2 separate regions of the Homo sapiens genome follow, and region 2 is linked to region 1. The links come from fine-mapping of genetic effects on gene expression. A gene starts in region 1. The other region holds a variant in brackets. All regions are shown on one strand. Distances are between the middles of the regions.

Region 1 (5,436 bases):
GAATGCTAATGTTAACTTTTTGCTGCTAGGGTGGCAGGTCAAGTGCTGATCAAATCCCAGTGGAAGTTTTCTTAGTCCCATTTATTCTCGAGAAATCTGGCCACCTACAGCTTTCTTCACGTGTTGTGGTAGAAGGCCAGCCAACCCCGCTCAAGGAAGGTTTTTTGTTTTCTCTGAATTTAGGAAAGCGTTCTCTGCTAGGTAGATTGAATCACGTGTTAACAATCACCCAAGATGAGAGCCCTGGTATAAATGCTCTGCACACAGCTTGCCTTCCTCTCTTAACTGGCTGTGATGACAGGCAAGGCTCCAATCTGACCTCAACAGGTCCTCACTCCAAAATCAGACTGAAATACACAAGCCAAGTCCATTAAAGTAACATTAAAGGTCTGGATTTAGCTCCACTAAACAGCAGAATTAAACTTTCAAGGGTCTAGCCACAATAAAGAGATTTCTTTAAAGTCACTTAGGTTTGCACAGTTGTAGCTATTAGGGATCAGATCTTTATCTCAAAGGTACATAGTTTACCTTTGATCCTCCTCCAGAACTCCCACTAATGTCAACTTTCTCCACTGTTGGGATCAAGCCCCTGGCCTCCCTTTAATGCTGGGTTTTATTGCTGATTCTACAAGATCAACAGAAAAATTACAAGGAAAAGCTGTGAAGTTCCCTTCCGATGACAAGTTGTTTTAACAAAAAGAGCCCTCTCTTAAACGGTGAAATTTAAACACAGCAAACGACTCGCTGTAAAATGGAGCTGAGGGAGACAAAAACAAACAAAAACAACAACCAAAAAACAAAGTAACAAAACAAACACTAATTAATCAGTCCGATTGCTTATTCAGGGTTTGTTCGCTTGTCCAGGAAACTGGCAACGAGTGTCTTGAAAACAAGAGAAGGGGCAAGTGCCCGTTAGCACCCTTTAGCCTTTCTCCAGAGTCAGACAATCTGGATAAGGCTGAGGGTGCTCTGGGAGGGTTCCCAGGGAGTCAGCGCGCTTTCGAATCCCCATCCCCCAGTCCTGAGCTGTGGGGCTCTGACCCCAGGTCCTCCATCCCTGGACTGACACACCCAGTCTTCCCCCAAATCCCCACGGCACCGTCCCCTTGGTCCCCTTGCCTCTGGAGCGCTCGCGTGTCCCCGAGGGACACACTCTCCCTGCGGTGGATGACCCTGCGCCCACTCTGTCGCAGAACCCCGTTGTTTCTAATGCCCTTCCTCCGCAGCAGCACCCCTTCAACACCCATCACCACCCTCTCTCCCCAGTTGCAGGAGGAAGTCGCTCTGCTTCCTCTGTTCTCACCGCCAGCCCGAGCTTGGGCGCCCGGGGCTTTCTGGGTGGGGTTCTTTTTTGTGTACACAGTGTGTGTATGTGTGCGCGCGAGAGTGTGTGTGCCAAACGCTCATCGCATCCTTCCGCCTAGGCGGCCTCAGGTGCTCGCGGGAGGGGATCAGGATCTCGTCGTGCCCTTGTCCCCGGCTCTTTGTGCCGAGTCCAGAGCAGCGCGAGGTCAGCTCTTTAGCTCACACCCCCGGCCCCGACCCTGGGTGGGAGCCTCCGCCTCCGCCTCCTCCGCAGCCGTCCGAGCCCGGCTTTTGCCCGTCTGCTTCCATCCCGGCGCACGCCTCCGCCGTGCCGGGCGGCCGGAGAGCTGTCAGCCGGCGCCTGGGACTCGGACCCCGGCCGGCGGCTGCCGGTGCGAAAACTTACTGGAGCGGAGAAAGACAGCGCGCGGCGCACCAAGCGGCCGCACTGGCGCCGTTCCTGCCCCTTCCCGCGTCGCTCCCGCCTGGAGCGCGTCCCCCGGGATGCCCCGTCCCCCGGCCACTCACCAGCACCACGGAGCCCCGCACGGCCTCAGACACGCTCTGCCGGAGCTCAGCCGCCGTGCCAGGCTTGCTGAGCCGTTTGGTGAATTTGCGCACTTCGGCCATGGCAGCGGCGGCGGGCGGGTCTCGGCGGGCGGGCGGACCTCGGCGGGCGGGTGGACTCACTGCCCCGGCCCGCGGCGGCCGCGGCCGCTGCTGCTCCCTCTGTTTACTCGCCGGCCGGCCGGCCACATCGCAGCTCGGCGGCGGCGCGGCTCACGCTGCTCCTCCCTCCCACCTCCCACCCGCTGCTCCTCCCTCGTTCCCTCCTTCCCTCCTTTTCTCGCTCGCTTCGCCCGCTCACTGTCCTGCCCCACGGCGTCGGCGGCGGCAGCTCCCTCCCCTAGAGGGCCCGAGCTCCGATCGCCACCAGCCGAAGCAGGAGGGTGTGTCTGATGGGGAAGGGTGTGTAGAGGGGGAGGGAGAACTGGAGGTGGGGGCGAGGGTCACGAGGGAAGAGGGGGGAAGTGGCTACCGCTCGGGCTCCGCCCGCAGCTGATGTTGCTGGTGCAGCCGCATCCGGGAGGGGAGATCTGGGCTGCTTCTTTTTTTCCGCTTGAGTGGGGAGGGCGGGGTGGGGTGGGGGAACAGAGAGGGGTGATGAAATGTCTCCAAGAGTGGGGCGTGCTCCTCTCCCGCCCTAGTGCTCCTCTCCCGCCTCCGAGCTGCAGTGCCCGCAGGAGGGCTGGAGAACTCTCACGTCCCTCCACCCCGCAAGCCCCCAGGGCCCAGGCGGCTAGGGGCTGGAAAACAACGTGGAGCAGCCGCCTTTTGTGTGCTCCTTGGGGAAGGGTCGCACCAATGTCGAAGGACAGAGAGCTGCTTTCCAGCGTGAGCGGCTCGACTGGGTCCCCCTCCTCGCCCACACCGTTTTCCTACTCAGTTGGCTCACCTAACAGGGGGCAACACTGGGGAGAGAGCATGCTTCTGGAAGTGGGAACTTATTGTGGCGGCACCCCTCGCTCCGTCCCCCACGGGGGAGAGCTGGGTGGTGGAGCCTGAGCCTGTGGCAGGTGATCCCTAGGTCAGCACTGACTGCACCAGGAGTGGGGTGGGGGTGGGCATTAGGATGAGCCTGTGGCAGGTGATCCCTAGGTCAGCACTGACTGCACCAGGAGTGGGGTGGGGGTGGGCATTAGGAAGGCCATCTCCCTGGGTTTGGTGGACTTACCAATCTTATAGTAGCTTTTACAAGTGCCCTGCACTCACCTCTCCATTTCCTATTCATCTCCTTACTCTTTTCAGCTTCCAAGAAATTGTTTTTCCAAGAATCAAAGAACATCTCATAACAGGGTATAAAACGAACATGCTTAAGACAGAAATAGGGACGGGAATCTTGAAGTACTAGTGACCCTGTCAGACCTCCTGAAGTGCAGAGTGAAAGGCTCCACTGATGGTGGCAGTTTTCTATCTGGTTATTTCATTTGTTGAGAGTTTGAAAATGGCCCTCAGTCTGGGGGACCGAGCAGCCCTTCTGAAAGCAGTCCTACCACCACCCATCGGGCACTTTCCCCACCCTCAAAGACCAAACAGTCTTTTAGGGGACTTTATTATGGAAACAAGGGCATGCGTGGTGATGGTTTCTTTGAACCCAGAAAAGGCCAAGTCTCTTCGCAGTAAGCCTATTTCAGCCATCCCATCAGTCTCAATAAAGCATATATGGAGGCTCCTAGAGGGCCTGGGACCTGGAAGTCCTCTAAAGACATTCTGTCACAAATCTTAGTTTTGCACAGTACGTGTAAAATTTGTTAATTGTTGCGTGTAGGCTGATCTCCAAGAATTCATACCCTCTGTTCCATAAATGCCTGTGTGGCTCATGCTGTTGGTTACCACCACAATAGCTATAACACTTTTTGCTTGCAAAGAGAGCCCAGATTTACTTCAGATATAGGGCAGAGCCACAGGGTTTAAGGAAGGCAGGCCCAACTCCAGGTGATGAATCATGACTGATGAAAAAACCATGATAAGCTCCCTCTTATTGACTAGTGGGATGGTCTAGACTCCCAATCGGTTTGGGCCAATAAGATATAAGAGGGAAGTGTGAGAGGAGGGTTCCTGGGAAAGTTTTTCTACCTTGATGAAAAAAAAAGGAGAGAGGCCCAGGCCCCACTTTCTTCCTGAGAGGGATGTTTTCTTGCAATGCTTTGGCCCTTGGCAGCCATATTGCAACCATGAGGCAAGGCCAAGGCAATCTCAGAGAAGCCAATGTAGAATCCAGACAGCATTGAACTGTTGAACCAGGCCTGATACTGCCTACCTCTAGTTCCTTTTTATGTAAGAAAAATAAACCCCTGCAGTTTATGACACGTTTAGATGAATATTCTGTTACTTTCAGCCAAAAGCATTCTTAGTACCACAGGCTCTATGGTAGCCACTGAAGGTGCACAGCATTGAACAAGACAGGCAAGGTCCCTCCTCTCCTGGAGCTCACATGTCAGTGCAAAGAAATGAACATGTTAATTTCAGAAACATAAATGCTATGTAGAGAATTAAGGGGAGTTGATAGAGAGTAACTGGAGTTGGGGACCTAGTTTAAAATAGATGATCAAGAAAAGCTTCTTTGAGGAGGTAAACACTGAGCTGAGTCTTAAAGAAGCAGTCAGCAGAGATCAGCAGGTAGACCATTCCAGGCGACAGAAATGCCAGGAACGAAGGCCTAGAGATGGGGGCAGACTTAGTGTGTTCAAAGACCAAAAAAAGGCCAGTGTGGCTGGAGCGTAGAAGGAAGAAGAGTGGTACAAGATAGAGTAGGAGAAGTAAGCAATTTCTGCAGAGTATTGTGAGCCATGGGAAGCATATGTCACACTGATGGTGCACAAACACCATCTGGCCATTGTGCAGGCTCTATGCTCATTCTTGAGATTGTAGATTTCACTTCTTCTGGTTTAAGACTTCTATTTAAATACATAAACATTGAGCATGGTGCTACACACTGAGGGAGAATGCAGTATGAATTAAAGACACTATTTCCTTCTGGGAAAAAAAAAAGAAAGTCTAGTAGAGAATGTATTTATGGTACAAAGTAGTATGTGATACAGACCATACTCAAGGTAAAGAGGCAGGAGAGGCCGAGCGCGGTGGCTCATGCCTGTAATCCCAGCACTTTGGGAGGCCGAGGTGGGTGGATCACCTGAGGTCAGGAGTTCGAGACCAGCCTAACCAACATGGCAAAATCCGTCTCTACTAAAAATACAAAAATTAGCCAGGTATGGTGGCAGGCACCTGTAATCCCAACTACTTGGGAGGCTGAGGCAGGAGATCACTTGAACCCGGGAGGCAGAGATTTCACTGAGCCAAGATTGCACCATTGCCCTCCAGCCTGGGCAAGAAGAGTGAGACTCCATCTCAAAAAAGAAAAAAGAAAAAAAAAAGGCAGGAGAGATCATATCTTCTTAGGTCTATGAAAGGTTTTCTGGAACAGGGGGTGTTTGAGCATTTGAGCTGGACTTTGCGGAATGGGTAGGATTTGGATATAACTGCACTCACATAGTAAAGAGAAATCGTAGGTGCAATCTTACAACTTCCAATAGGGCATTTTATTGGGCGATTTCTTTTCCACATTCGTTA
Region 2 (5,000 bases), 110 kb before region 1:
GATCACGCCACTGCACTCCAGCCTGGGCAACAGAGCGAGACTCTGTCTCAAAAAAAAAAAAAAAAAAAAATGAAGGCCCGGCACGGTGGCTCATGCTTGTAATCCCAGCACTTTGGGTGGCCAAGGCAGGTGGATCATGAGGTCAGGAGTTCGAGACCAGCCTTTCCAACACAGTGAAACCCTGTCTCTACTAAAAATACAAAAATTAGCTGGGTGTGGTGGTGGGCGCCTGTAATCCCAGCTACTCGGGAGGCTGAGGCAGGAGAATTGCTTGAACCCCAGGAGGCAGAGGTTGCAGTGAGCCAAGATTGCACCACTGCACTCCAGCCTGGGCAACAGAGCTAGACTCCACCTAAAAAAAAAAAAAAAAAAAAAAGAAGGAAAGGAAAAGAAAAGGGAAAGGGAAAAGGAAAGGAAAGGAAAAGGAAAAGGAAAGGAAAGGGAAAGGAAAGGAGAAGGAAAGGAAAGGAATAAAGACGCAATGAAAAGCATGTCAACGGGGAAAAGGAAGGGAGAGCCGGGGCAGGTGTAATGATATGAACTATAATTGGGGGTAAGAGACTAGCAGTGTCCTCAAAGTTTAGCATATATCAGAAGCACCTGGTGGGCCCTTTTAATAGATTGCTCAGCCCCTCTCCCGGAATTTCTGATTTTGTAGGTCTGGAGTGAAGCTCAATGATTAACAATTTTACTAAGTTCCCAGGCGATATTGATGCTACTGGTATGGGAACCATGTTTTGGAAACCACTGGCCTAAAGTTTCTTCCATTTTCAACAACACTATCCCCAACAGCAGCGATGCCCGCAAATGGTGTGTGGCTGTGGTGTGAGGCCTGCTGGAAGAGGTTGTGGCAACAGCAGAGGCAGCAAAGCCAAAGCCAGAAACTTCCAGCACTCAGCCCACAATTTAAGTACCCTGTTTTGATTTCAAAATTCAGGTGCATTTTGCATTCTACTCTACAATATATCCTTGTTTGTTTTCACATAAAAATAATACTTCCTTATTCTTTCAAGTAAAAATTGATGGCTTGGGGCCACATTCTGTTAAATATGCATCCCTAGTCACCTGTGTCTATTTAAATTGATTAAAATTAAAATTACACACAATTAAAAATTCAGTTCCTGCAGGAAGCGGTGGCTCACGCCTGTAATCCCAGCACTGGGAGGCCGAGGCGGATGGATCGCCTGAGATCAGGAGTTTGAGACCAGCCCGACCAACATGGTGAAACCCCATCTCTACTAAAAATACAAAATTAACCGGGCATGGTGGTGGGCGCCTGTAATCCCAGCTACTCGGGAAGCTGAGGCAGAAGAATCGCTTGAACCCGGGAGGCGAAGTGAGACATTGCACTCCAGCAGGGGCAACAAGAGCGAAACTCTGTCTCAAAAAAAAAAAAAAAAAAAAAAATTCTGTTCCTCAGCTGAACCAGCCCCAGTTGAAGTCTCAATAGCCACATGTGGCTGGTGGCTGCTATATTGAACAACACAAGTGCAGAACATTTACATAATTGGAAAAAGTTCAATTGGAACTTATATATTTATCTTCTTAAATACATAAAGCAAATATTAACGAACATGAAAGGAGAAATATATTGCAATAGAAAAATAGAGGACTTCAATACCCCACTTTCAACAATGGACAGATCAACCAGACAGAAAAGTAATAAGGAAACATTGGACTTGAACTACACTTAGACCAAATAGACCTAACAGACATATACAGAACATTCCATCCAACAGCAACAGAATATCCATTCTTTTCATGAGCACATAGAATAGTCTCCAGAATAGACCATATATGTTAGGCCACACAACAAGCCCTAAGAATTATAAGAAGACTGAAATCATATCAAGTGTTGTTTCCAACCACAATGGAATGAAACTAGAAATCAATCACAGGAGAAACCGTGGAAAATTCAAAATAGGTGGAAATTAAACATGTTCCTGAGTCAAAAAAGAAAAGGGAAAATTTAAAATATCTTGAGACAAATGACAATGAAAACACAACATACCAAAACCTATGGAATGCAACAGCAGTTCTAAGAGGGAAGTTTATAGTAATGAATACCTCCATTAAAAAATAAGAAAGATCTCAAATAAATAGCATCTTTGTATTATAACACCAAAACTCACATGGTGCAGTTGATAGGAACGTCATCTTCATGGGTCATATTTGTGAGAACTCGGAAGAGTTGCATAAGAATTACAGGTAGAAACTGTATCATGACTTGGATCTCCATGGCATGCAAACACTAAAATTAAGTCATTATTAGTTATGAAAACAAACAGAAATATGATAAAATTTGCAAATGTGAAACAGCAAAAAAATTAAGTAGTGAGAAATACATTGACTAGCATATAAGCTCAATTAAAAGTGAGCTTTCCATTGGATAGGGGGCTTTTTTGTTAATTACTTAATCCACACCTCTATTTGGCACTCAGATTTTGTTATTTAACATTAAACACTTTACTAAAGCTAATAAGTATAATTTGGATAAACAGTTTTTAGAAAATTGACAACTGACTCCTGGTAAACCAACACTCAATTGCCTGGGGCAGTGGGGAGGAACAGATGTTTGGAGATGATACTGGAGATGCATCTACTAACCCCCAGGCATTCTGTATGTTCTGCAGGGGAATGTGGGCATCAGTTAATCTGGTGACAAGTTAAGTGGAATGCAATAAAGAGTGGTTCTATATGTAATTGGCTCTACACCATCACCACTACAAAACGGAAGCACTTTTGCAGTCTAAGAATCTCACAATACATTTCCTTCAAAGTGCTAACACTGTGTCTCCAATGATAAGTGCGTTACAAACATCAAAAAGAAGAAACGTGATCATATATACAGAGAAATAATACAAACAGTGAAAGTTGTTCAATTTCTTTCTTCTTTCTTCCCTTCTCTCCACATCATTCACTCACTCAACCAGCTAACCAAAAAAAAAAAAAAAAAAAAAAAAAAAAGGAAACAAACCTCGCTGAGCATCTTTCT[A/G]TATCAATTCAATGTGTAGTGCTAGGGGAAATAGAGAGGTGGATAAATCAAGTCTCTGTACTTAAAAAACTCATAAATTCTCTTTCCCAGATTCCCTGACTTTTGCCACTATCTGTCTTCAAGACCCTCTAATCAATAACCAAAATAGTATAAATCATTTTCTTTTTAGCAGGTCTCTGTACAATTTCTCTTTACTCTCCATACATCCAACTCTCATTTCTAAATTAATCTTCCTCAAATACTCGTTACATTAGACCACCTCCTGCCAAGATTTTTTCGATGTCTCCCCATAGCCTATGGCAGTGGTTCTCAACCAGGGGCCATTTTGTTCCCGACAGATTTGGCAATGTCTGGAAACAGTTTTGGTGGTCACAACCAGGGAGTGATACTGACATCTAGTGGTCAGAGGCCAGCAATGCTGCTAAATATCCTACGACGCACACACAGACCCTCACGGACAAAGAATAACTCTACCTCAAAATGTCAATAGTGCGAAGATTGAGAAATCCTGGCGTAGAGTATCAAGACCAAGTTATTTCAGACCTAACTGACATTTTCAGCCTAAACAATCATCACTGTTCTCTACAAGGCCAAACTGGTATCTCTGGTTTCTTCACTGTTCTTGAATATATCATATACTTTCCTGCCTTTGTGTCTGTTCATCGTTTTTAGCCAAATCCTGGCTACTCTTTCAAGGCAAGTACAAATCCCCACTTCAGTGAAACCATTCATTTTCTCATTCGACAAAGGGCAAACAAATGAACTTCCAATAGCCAAGCACACCAAAAACAAAAGTAAACCCAAACAAATAAAGGCCATGGTTTCTACCATCAAGTAGTTCACAGTGTACAGGGGATAAACACATGGAACTAAATAATTGCAATATCAACAGTAAATAGCATGATCATGGAATATACAAAATGCACAAAGAAGCAACTGAGTGTGCAAGTGGGTAGGGAATGTCTGGTAAGGCCTCAGAGATGAGAAAGGGTAAATGATAAATAGAATAGTGCCAGGTAGAAAAGAGAGATGGGCATTCCCTGCTACCAGTAGCAGTCCTCTGTAATTTATTCTCAACATGACAGCCAGAGTGTTCTTTCTGAAATGCAAATTAGACATTGCCATCTTTCTGTTGTTAAAAAACAAAACAAAACAAAACAAACTACCACGAACAAAGAGCTATCATAAGCTTCCATGCCTACGACATACCCGGCCTGTCCCGCCAAACCTGTCACTTGCCATCCTCCCCTCACAATGCACACTGTACTATAGCTACACGGTCTTTTATTTTTCTGTCCTTCAAACATGCTGATGTAAGGTGTTTACACCTACTGTGATATTCTGTTATCCTTTTACACGACTTTACCCCCTAAGGTTGTCTTCCTCTCATCCTTTCAGCTTGAAATGCTATTTCCCCCAATAGGCCTTCCCTGACAACTCTATGTAGAATACACTCCTGGTCATGTTGGATCTCATTAACCTGCTCTTTTCTTCATGGCACTCACTTATAATCTCTCTACCACAACTAGAAAAGGTATGCTGTCTAAACTGTTCCCCATTTGATTCATAGCATCCAGAACAATGTCTGGCCCATACTACATGGTCAATAAATATTTGGTGACTTACTGAATAAATGAATAAAATAAGAAAGTAGGCCGGGCGCGGCAGCTCACACCTGTAATCCCAGCACTTTGGGAGGCTGAGGTAGGCGGATTACTTGAACTCAGGAGTTCGAGACCAGCCTGGCCAACATGGTGAAACCCTGTCTCTACTAAAAATACAAAAATTAGCCAGGCATATTGGTGCATGCCTGTAATCCCAGCTACTTGGGAGGCTGAGGCAGGAGAATAGCTTGAACCCGGGAGGCAGAGGTTGCAGTGAGCTGAGTTCATACCATTGCACTCCAGCCTGGGCAACAGAGTGAGACTCTGTCTCCAAAAAAAAAAAGACAGGAGCCCTCTAGTCTACAGTAGTTCCTCAGTTCACCGAACCCTCAGCACTTGTG

What was found. PIP is the estimated chance that this variant, and not a neighbour inherited with it, causes the effect.
Region 2: its variant is fine-mapped to the expression of DOCK11 in lung (TOPMed, PIP above 0.99). The same link has a PIP of 0.9 or more in whole blood.

The regions. Positions count from the first base shown.
Region 1 is chrX:118,492,471-118,497,906 of GRCh38, reverse strand. It overlaps DOCK11 (dedicator of cytokinesis 11), which reads right to left and starts at 2,092. Exons shown (of 53, transcript NM_144658.4): 1 at 1,834-2,092. The coding sequence starts at 1,935. RefSeq lists silencers at 1,565-1,624, 1,795-1,854, 1,945-2,024, 2,135-2,274 and enhancers at 1,304-2,282, 2,685-2,754.
Region 2 is chrX:118,602,489-118,607,488 of GRCh38, reverse strand. DOCK11 (dedicator of cytokinesis 11) reads right to left here. Exons shown (of 53, transcript NM_144658.4): 24 at 2,133-2,251. Among named protein-coding and RNA genes, the nearest start is that of DOCK11, 110 kb to the right of the region's middle. The variant A/G (reference allele first, on the strand shown) is at 2,996.